2 separate regions of the Homo sapiens genome follow, and region 2 is linked to region 1. Evidence: fine-mapped expression QTL. Tissue or cell type: whole blood. Region 1 holds a variant in brackets; the other region holds the start of a gene. All regions are shown on one strand. Distances are from middle to middle.

Region 1 (5,000 bases):
GAGTGTAGGTTTCCTTTATCCCACTTACTGTTTGATAATGTAAAAACAATATAATGAATACAGATAAGAAGTTTGGGAAGAAAATTGGGGAAGTTGTGAAAATATGACAACTGTATCCTCTTGCAGAATGAAGAGTTAGTTATATTAAGTAAAAGTCTACCACCAGAATTGAAAACTACCTGCTGATGATTATTTGATAATGTAAAATAAAATTTGTTAATGTAAAACAATGTAATAAAAAGGACTTGAGGAAGAAAAATAGGAAAGTTGTGAAAATACGTCAATTATATCCTCTTGCATAGTGAAGAGTTAGTAAGTAAGTAAAAATCTAACCACCAGAAGAATTGAAAACAAAACCTGCTGATTCCCTCTGGAAAGTCAAACTAGGATCATAGAGGCAAATTTTAGCTTTTATCTCTGGTTATTTCTTTTGGTTTTAATTTCGGAGAGAGAATCAGGTTGCAACAATTATTTTTGTAAAAATTTTATTCAATCTAGTATTTTTTAAAGTCAGGATTATTAAGGTATAATTTACATACCTTAACATTTACCCTGTTTTATGTAAAGTTTAATGAGTTTGATAAACAAAATTATGTAACCATCATCAAAATCAAGGATAGAACAGTTCCCTCATGCCACAAAACTTTCTCATACTCTTTTGTAGTCCACCTACCCCCCACCCAAGCCCATGGCAATCTGTTAGTCCATTTTTTAACTTTTAACCTATGTCTTTTATTTAGTGCGTTTCTCATAGACTGAGTATAGCTGAGTTTAAATTCTTATCAAATCTGACAATCCTTATGTTTTAATTGGTGAATTGAGACCATTTGTACTTAATCTATTAGTCATTTTCTATTTGTTCTGTTCTTTTTTCCTTTTATTCTGCCTGTTTGTGGATTGAATATTTTTTATTATTCCATATTATCTCTACTATTGGTTTTAAAAATTATGTTTAGTGGCTATCTGCAAACACTAATTTAATTTTAGAAAAATTTAAAAAAAATGGATAGAAAGGAAAATGTTAATATTGTAGGTATGGGGAAATTTCCTATGTGAACAATTTTTGATTAAAACATTAGAGGATAATTAATAAAGCTAGGTTAATTGTATGTGAGTATTACATTTGTCTTATGCTCTGAGATTTGAACTTTTCAAAAAGAAAAGGAATGTTGACAAGAAAATATTTTAATGCAGGCACCAATGTCTGCAAATGAACAATCCATACTTTATAAAGTGTAATAATAAAAATTAAAACATGTTCCAAATCCTACTTACTACTGCTAAGTAGCAGTATTTACCCAAATACAGTACCTGTTTCCTGATAATTTGCATGAGTAGACTTGCAAATTGGAAAAAAAATTAGGGAGATGGTTGGTGAGAGAGACAAGGAGGGAAAAGGAGAAGGAAACTGGAGGATATCTGTGTGAAGGATGGCTTGTAGAGGATAGGATAAGAATTAAAGAGAAAAGTTTGCTAAATCATAAATGACCAGAGATTGCTTTATAGGTTGAATATGGAAAATAAGCTAGTGTTTGTATACCATAAAATATATTGTTACTACTTTTTTCGGGGGCTTAGGTATTTTGTATTGAGCAAAATAGTTTTTAGTGACTTAGTTCTGCCATATACTTGAAACTTAACCTGATAATTTGGCGAAGCCAAACCTGCTATAGGTTAGTTGCACTCACCACCAAAATTAAAGCCCTTTCGTGGAAGAACCAAATACTGCTATTACAGTAGCCTTTAGGAAACTGTAGGATCTTTGTCAGATTAATTCTGTTATAATCAGAAAACCTAAAATATGTAGAGGTAGATATTTTAGAAAATATATAGATTCTATTTTCTCAGAATAAAAGAGGAGCAATAAAAATATAACTTTTTGAATATTTTCACTAGGTCACATTTCACTTGTTAAAACAAGTTATTTATTTGCTTTGTAATTGATCTTTGACTTTTTGTTTTCTTTGTAGCTGTTCAACGGTTTTGTGTATAGCATTTGAGGTTCTTCAGGGCTTGCAGTATATGAACAAACATGGTATAGTACACAGGGCATTGTCTCCTCATAATATCCTGTTGGAC[C/T]GAAAGGTAATTGTTAAATCATGTAATAAATATTTATATATCATTTGAAATTGGAAGCAACTGGGATCAGGGCTACTCAGTCAGAGGAACAATAGAATCAGAATATGTTTTAAGAATATTCATAATGAAAAGTCTATATGAAAGTGATGTAACTGTGGTTTTTGAATTTAAGGATTAAATAATCCTTAAATTATTTAATCTGTATATCTTTCACATGGATTATTTTTCCCACAAGACCCATTTTCTAACTTTATGGTTTTTTTATTTTACTCTTATTTCTAAAGCCTTGTGGCGTCCCAGTATACTCCTCCTCTTAATTTATTTTCATTTTTAAGAAAATGGCTCTTTTTGCTAGAATGTTATTCATATAAACCAACTGCATTGTGTTTTCTCTATTTTTCTTCTGCCTTCTTTCCTCTTCTATTTATCTCCTTATTTACCAACTGTTCATGCCTACCTCCTTTTACTATTGAAGTGCTGTTTCTCTACTGGAAATCTTATGGGGCATTAAGAAGAAGCTTGTAAACCCTTCAAAGAGAATTATGGATAGTAAGGTTATATATTTTCAGGAATAATTGTAATTTGATTCCTTTTCATAAAATACATAAAAACAACTTGGAGGAAATTTTTTCATGGGCATTATTTGCTGTGTTAGGATTATCCTTGTTCTCTGGTTCTTTTCCCAAATCAATACTTGGGAGGCTGAGATGAGAACATTGCTTGAGCCCAGGAGTTTGAGGCTGCAGTGAGCTATAATCACACCAATGCACTCCAGCCTGGATGACAGTGTGAGACCCTGTCTCTAAAAAACAAACACACAAACACAAAAATAGAAAATTGTACTCATTAGTTTCAGATTTATGGCAGTAAAGAATCATTACCTTATCAATTTAAGCTGTTTTTAAATATAAATATTTTATAATGCTTGGAAATAATGTTCTTGAGAAGACAAACCAATTTTAAGATCAACTTAATATTTTAAAGCCTTATAGATTAAAAGGGAAAAACTTAAAATATGTAAAATTATATTTATCATTTATTAAGAGCCTTATACTTATGATAGTTATTTTTGTTCTCAAACAATATAAAAAGTTATTGAAAATCTAGCAGATTCACCAAAATCTTGATGATTTTTGAACTGATCTTTTCAAGTTAAGTTTTCCTATTTCACAGTTAAATTATAACTATAAATGGACTTTCAACTCCATGGAAAAAAATTTGCTCTGTGAAAATTACCACAAAACATTCTAACCAAGGTTTCAAGACAGATGAGAATGTTTTTGCCTTTTTGTTTTGTGAAATAACTAGACAATGTAACAGCAAAAATATTAAAGAAAAATGTCATTTGTCATTTTGAGATATATATGTGTACATATGCATATATACATATTTAATGAGTATAAAGCAGACTATTGGCAGATAGTTTTTTATAAAATTATGATTTTTTAAAATCTACAGTGGCATTTTGATAAAATATTGTTATATAATGGTTTCTTTAGTTATAAAATGTATAATGATAATTTTATAATATAAATTATATGTTGCCAATTATAATAAATTATTTGATAGTGTTTTTTTTCTTTATTATCATAGGGACATATTAAATTGGCTAAATTTGGACTTTATCACATGACAGCTCATGGTGATGATGTTGATTTCCCAATAGGGTAAGGATATGTTTTCCTCTATTTTGAGTTTCTTTTTAACTTTGTAATCTTTGATAACATGTATATTTTGTTAATTATATTTGATATTCCTTTTTGATATGCAAACAGCTTTTTTAAAATTAATGCATCTCAATTTTCCATATACTTTTAAAATGAGTAGACAATGAGTTTTTCCCAGCATCCTCGTTGATGTTCATCATTCATTGAATTGGCAGAGAAGCTAACAGTATTGACATTCTTTACATTATAATATTTCCTAATTATCTGTATTTCATTCAGAATCAAATCAACTTAAGGCAAGAAGGATGACTAGATTCTCAACTAATGATAATGTGTGTGCATCAAGAGACTGAAAAACATCACTCTCACATTATTTTCAATTTAATGTTTTATGTTTAATTCCCTTTTCTCTAAGATATATATTAAGATTCAAGTTGAGTCATTGTGGATATTAGAGATAGAGATAAATTCCATACCTGAAAGTCTATGTTTAAGTTCAGAAAGGTTTATTTAATCACTTCTGTTATGGAATTGCAGATGTATGTTGCCCTCCACAAAAGAAATGGAAGGTTGTTTCATGCATATTCAAGTAGATGTTTTTGATACGGATTTCTGTGTTATATTTGTGTGGTTGCTTTTAGACATTTTCATTATTATTTTCTTTTCTGAAGATTAAGTTGAGATTGTTTTAGATAAAATAGTTACAAAAATAGTATAAAGAATTCCTCTCTACCCTTCATCAGTTTCTCCAAATGTTAACATTTCACTACATTTGCTTTTTCTCTGTTTTTTCTCCGAGCATATATGTGTGTATGTGTATAATGATTGTTTTTTATAATCACTTAAGAGTAATTAATTACATAATAGCACTTTAACCTGTAAGTACTTCAGTTTGTATTTTCTAAAAGAAGGACTTTGTTTTTTTACATGACCTCAGAACAGTTGTCAAAACAAGGAAACTAAACTTGATGCAGTATTATTATCTAACCTAGAGACATTAATCATATTTTTTCAATTGTAATGTGACTGTTTTTGATAGTATCCATTTGTGTTTTCCTCTTTGGGCTTCCTAAAATCAGTTCTATCACACCGTTACTGAGAATTGTGATATGGAGTCATGGAGTGTGTTTTTCAAACAGAATGTTACTCAAAAACTTAATTTGATTTTTTTTTTAAAGCCAGCCTCATATATAACTTGCCCTTTTTTCTTTATAACTCAAATTACAGGTTTCTTAACTAAATTTTTTAAGTTTA
Region 2 (5,209 bases), 55 kb before region 1:
TTATAGTACATCTTAATCATTAAAATACACACACAAAAGATGATTTTTGAGATTCTGAGATCTTCACTATCATTTTTGTTTACTGAGCAATTTCCTCAGTAGTCCTCCCCACCCACACCATCTAAATTGCCTGCAATCTTTTTGAAAAAGCAAAATCTCTGCCCCACGATGACAACATTGGGAATCAAACATAAGTAAGTTACTACTTTGAAATCAAAGTTTTACAGGCAGACTTTTAATTTTAGAATTCTTATGCTATATAGGAACGCTACACAAATTTGAAAGTGTCTCTACTCAAAACCTCTAATTTCCCTATTTCAGAATTACAGTAGGTAAAAATTTACATTTTTGTTGGAAGCTTTAAATACTATACAAGAAATCTAAAATGCCATCAATTGTAAAATGGCTTCAATCCCAAGAAGCTCTATTATTTTATGTACATTATGAAAAAAAACACTATTGAATCAACTGACCCAATGCTTTCTTATTACTTAGACACATCCTATATTATTTATTGACAGACTTCTTTTAAATTTAACCCTGGATTTTTATCTTGTATCACCCTTTGTTTCCCCACATACACAGTAACTTTTCATTCTAATGCTAATCATAATCTTCTAAATGATCTTTAAAAGGGAAATTACACTCAACAACTATATGCCAATAGTGCATATATAACTCAACTGAAATAATGACAAGATTAAGTTATGACTAAGTGGGTGTAAGTGTGGGCAATGACAAATATCTCACAACTGCCAATTCATCTACAGTGATTTAAAGATGTCAACAACTTAAAAATACATCCCTATTTCAGAGATGTTAAGTAAGAGAAAAATGTGTATCTCAGAATTGATGGAATATAGTAATTTTAATCATTTTCTTCCTTTCTTCTCCTCCCTTCATTCCTATTCTTGCCTTCCAACTTCTTTCCCTGATTTGCTACACAATCTAATTACTGGATATGTAAAAATATTATAGTATACATAAAATACCCCACACTGAAAGACCGTCCTTATTATAGTGTAAAGCAATGTGGTACCTTTTAGCACTAGGTGAAAATTCCTGCTAGGATTTAAATCATATGTGTCAAAAGTCAGAATTTAAAGAAGAAAATTAAATACACTGAGAACAATGCATCTGAAGACACTCAAAATATGTAAGCGCAGCAACCAGCAGTAATTCCCTAGGTCTTTTATCAACCTTTGCCAAAACCTATAAAAAGAATATCTAAAATTGCTTTTTTATGGAAGTTCCTATTTCCCTTACCAGACAGCCTGCTTTCCCTTTACTGATGAGGACATAGGGGGTCCTGGAGGGTTTAAAGGATGGCTATAAGGAATGACTATAGGGTGGACAGCTATGAGAGGCCAGTCCATGCATTTCTAAATACCATCGTCATTAACACAAAAACTTTCCTCCCCAGTACAGAGTCCATAAAATTTAAAAAGGAGTATGCCTTGGCCTCCCATGACCCTCTTACCTCACAATAAGGCCATCTTTTACCTGGTTAAGATTTGCAGACTAGACCCATTACATACCTTGTCATTAAATACCTATAATATACCCTAACCTTTGCAATCTTGACAGATGTGATTTCCATTTTATAGACAGATCCAGGAAAATTACATGACTTATCTGAATCCCTTCAAGTACCACATAGCAAAGCCATGATTTTAACTTGTGTTTGCCACTCTGAAACTCACACTGGAATTCATTTTTCAAGTGTCCTCCAAAGCCTAATTAAATAAAATTAACCCTGTCATCTATAATACTCTTACATATCCAAATTAAGTGCATCAAGAATATAACTGGCCATTTCTTACCACCCATAGTCAAACCACCATTATGCTTCCTCTGGATTATTGCAAAACTCTTCTTATTGGTCTCCTTTCTCCTACCACGTCCTCCTCTGTGTATTTTCCTTAAAGAGTGACCCTCTTAAAAGGAAGTCAGAGCCCATCACTCTACTGCTCAAAACGCTCCAAAGTCCTATTTCATTTAGAATAAAAGTTAGATGTCCTCAAGATCTTCATGACCTGCTCGCCTTGATTTAATCTCCAGTGAAGGACTAAACCCTTCACTCAACTCTGCCCTACAGGCCTCCTTGCTATTCTAGCACGTTTCTGCTTCATGACCTCTGCAATGGCTGGTCCCTCTGTCTGACTGCACTTTCCCAAGATATTCGCGTGGTTAAATCTCCCACTTCTGTCAGCCCTTTACTTAAAAGTCATCTTTTCAGCAAGACCTTCCTGTGTCACTTTATACCCTTCTTCCCTGCTTTACGTTTCTCTTCAGGACTATCACGACCTAAAATACAGTATGTTTCTAATTACTTTGCTTAGTATGTGCCTTCCTCTCTAAAATGTGAGCTACAAGTAGACACAGATTTCCGTCTGTTTTGTTCACTGCTGTTCACCTAATGCCTAGAACGGTGTCTGGAATAGAGTGGGCGCTTAATAACTATTCGCTCAATGAATAAATTCCTGTCTTCACCCTCCTCTCCCCCAAAGCACCTAAGTCCTTTGACACACACATTCACATAACAGTAAATACGCTTAGGGATCGATATTTTTCTGTAGCATTCTTAACTTAGGCCTGCATCCCATTTCTCAAACGTGGCTCCTTTAGAAGGAAGTCTCAAACTCTTTCCTGTTTCCTTAGGCCAGGGCTGGTCCTGCTGCGAACGGACTACCCATTAGCAGCGCAGGCCAGGTCCTCTCTCCTGGAGGCAAGTTAGAGAAGGAAGACCCCTACGATCGCAATCGGCGATCCCCGAGTGAGTGACCCGCCACGACGTCACTCACATGAAGCGGAGGACCACGGGTTCCGAGACAGCCACAGCAGGAAGCATGTAGGTCCAGCCACCCGCGTACTATAGCAGTGAGAAAGGACCCAATGAGGTGTCCTTGCTGAAAGCCTGAGTGTTCTACAGATTCAACCCTCAATTCTTTCTTCCTCTTCCTGTGCTCAGTCCCATTAACCTGCCATACCACGCTCCTCGTCTTCCATTCCCTCACCCAGTATTTTCAATCGACCCCCCCCGTCCCCCCGCACCTCTTTCTCTCTCGCTATATGTCCTTTCGTGGCCAGTTTGGGCAAGGGGAAGGACACCACAAGTCGGGGTCTTTCCTCAGCGTTGGGTCGCGGTGGCTGTGAGGGCGGAAGAAAAGGCCAGGCTGAGGGGAGGGTAGAGGGTGAAAAGCTCGGATCTGTGTTTGGGGAAGGCCAGGCTTGCGCTCCTCGCCGGGTTCCGCGAAGGTTAACCTTGGCTGACTTGGCTCGCGAGCAAAGGGCAGCGTCTGAGCTCCCGGCGTTCCAGGAGTGGCCTCTTTTGTAGGAGCACCTGAAATGCAGCGTCTGGTGCACTAAGCCGTAGCGGCAGCAGCAGCCACAGCGACAGCGCTGGGGCCCTGTGTAGAAGCTCCATCCCCCTTGTCTTTGTGCTTGCCTGCGTCCCCAGACTCAGAGGCAGGTATTTGGGTAATCCAGTTTTCCGTGTCGTAGTGGGTGGGGTCTGTGGGAGGTAGAGGACTATCAGGAGCAGTGAGTGGCCCCGCATGTCTTCAGAATAGATAGAGAACCGAGCTGTGGAGCCGCTTGCTGATAGGTACTGTCTCCATCCCTAGCTACAGCCCGCCTTTCCTGTAAATCAGGTTCACCTGAGTCGTTTGGGAACCGTAGGCTTAGTAATCGCTCTGTCACTGCCTCAAAGGAAGGCTAAAGGAGGTTAGAGAATCTAGAATCCGCCCCTCCATTACTCACCTTGGAGGCAGAATTTTGCTTTGGTTTGTTTCTGGCCCTCGAGGTTTAGTCAGTCGTCAAAGTGTAACACCCCCTTGAGCAGTAGGAGAAAGTGAAGCAGAGGAAGGAAGTTACTTGAGGATTGTCAGTGGCTGCTTTTCAAGGATCCCTGTCCTGGTTTCTATCTATTTGAGACAAAAATAACCTCTTGAGAGAATGTATATATAAAATAAATGAATTAGTATCATTTTCCTGTTGAAGAAATGTGAAATTTTATTCATGATAAAATCGGCGTCTTTTGCCCTATTTTTTACTTTCTTTCCCCATTCGAGTCGTTTAAAACTCTAAGTTCTTTGAGGGCACAGAGTCTGACTTGTTCATTATCCTTTGCCCACCAGCTGGAAAAACAACTGACTTAAAATAGGGGCTTCAAAATATTTGTTGAATGAATGAATTTTCAAGCCCAACTGCTTGCACTGCTGTTTCCCTCATCTAATCTCTCATCTCTACGTTTTTTTTCCCCCGGTAGTTTTCTTCCACTCACGAGGTGTAAGTGAATGTATGTGTGTGTATTTTTGTGTGTGAGCCTTTTTATGTACAACCATTTAAGAGGTAGTGGAAAAAGAACACTGATTATGCTAATTAGTGTTTTATCTTTTTCGATCATTGTGTTTTATTTGGTTATTTTATTTTCAGCTATGTGATGATAAAGACATCTGATTGAAAATAAAATGGTCGGGCGCGGTGGCTCACGCCTGTAGTCCTAGCACTTTGGGAGGTCGAGGCGGGTGGATCACCTGAGGTCAGGAGTTCAAGACCAGCCTGGCCAGGATGGTGAAACCCCGTCTCTACTAAAAATACAAAAATTAGCCGGGCGTGGTGGCGGGCGCCTGTAATCCCAGCCACTCTGGAGGCTGAGGCACAGAATCGCTTGAACCCGGGAGGTGGAAGGATGCAGTGAGCCGAGATCATGCCACTGCACTCCAGCCTTGATGACAGAGTGAGACTCTGTCTCAAAAAAAAAAAAAAAAAAAAAAAAAATCAAGTAGTATAGCGTAGTAGGATTGAATAATAAAGTGCAACTGTCTCACCTGTCCTACTCTCAGTACTGTTCTTCAAAGATAACCACTTTTAACCTTTTCTAATTTTAGGTCTGTAGGTTAAATAATAAGTTAAACTGTTAATTCTTTTTGTTGACTTCTTGAGATAGCCCTAAGTTGAACTGCTAATTCTTTTTCCGTTGACTTCTAGAAATAGCCCACACCATTCACAATCTCCTCTGAATTTTGGAAGAGTCATAATCATAATTTTTAGTTTTTGTATTGGTTACTTTATAATTCAAAATAATATACGTAAACTACTTTTTTCACATCAACTTTTGAAAATATATTTGACTCCTTGTTTGGTAAAACGAGAAAAGTAGTGATTCTACCTTTTTCTTTATCACTTCAGAAACTACATTTATGCC

The links. PIP is the estimated chance that this variant, and not a neighbour inherited with it, causes the effect.
Region 2: TBCK starts here. The variant in region 1 is fine-mapped to the expression of TBCK in whole blood (TOPMed, PIP above 0.99).

Annotation. Positions count from the first base shown.
Region 1 is chr4:106,259,183-106,264,182 of GRCh38, reverse strand. TBCK (TBC1 domain containing kinase) reads left to right here. Exons shown (of 26, transcript NM_001163435.3): 4 at 1,971-2,085; 5 at 3,673-3,746. Among named protein-coding and RNA genes, the nearest start is that of TBCK, 55 kb to the left of the region's middle. The variant C/T (reference allele first, on the strand shown) is at 2,080.
Region 2 is chr4:106,314,190-106,319,398 of GRCh38, reverse strand. It overlaps TBCK (TBC1 domain containing kinase), which reads left to right and starts at 3,190. Exons shown (of 26, transcript NM_001163435.3): 1 at 3,190-3,468. AIMP1 (aminoacyl tRNA synthetase complex interacting multifunctional protein 1) reads right to left here and starts at 2,849. Exons shown (of 7, transcript NM_001142416.2): 1 at 2,805-2,849. RefSeq lists enhancers at 2,641-2,890, 3,381-3,440, 3,521-3,610.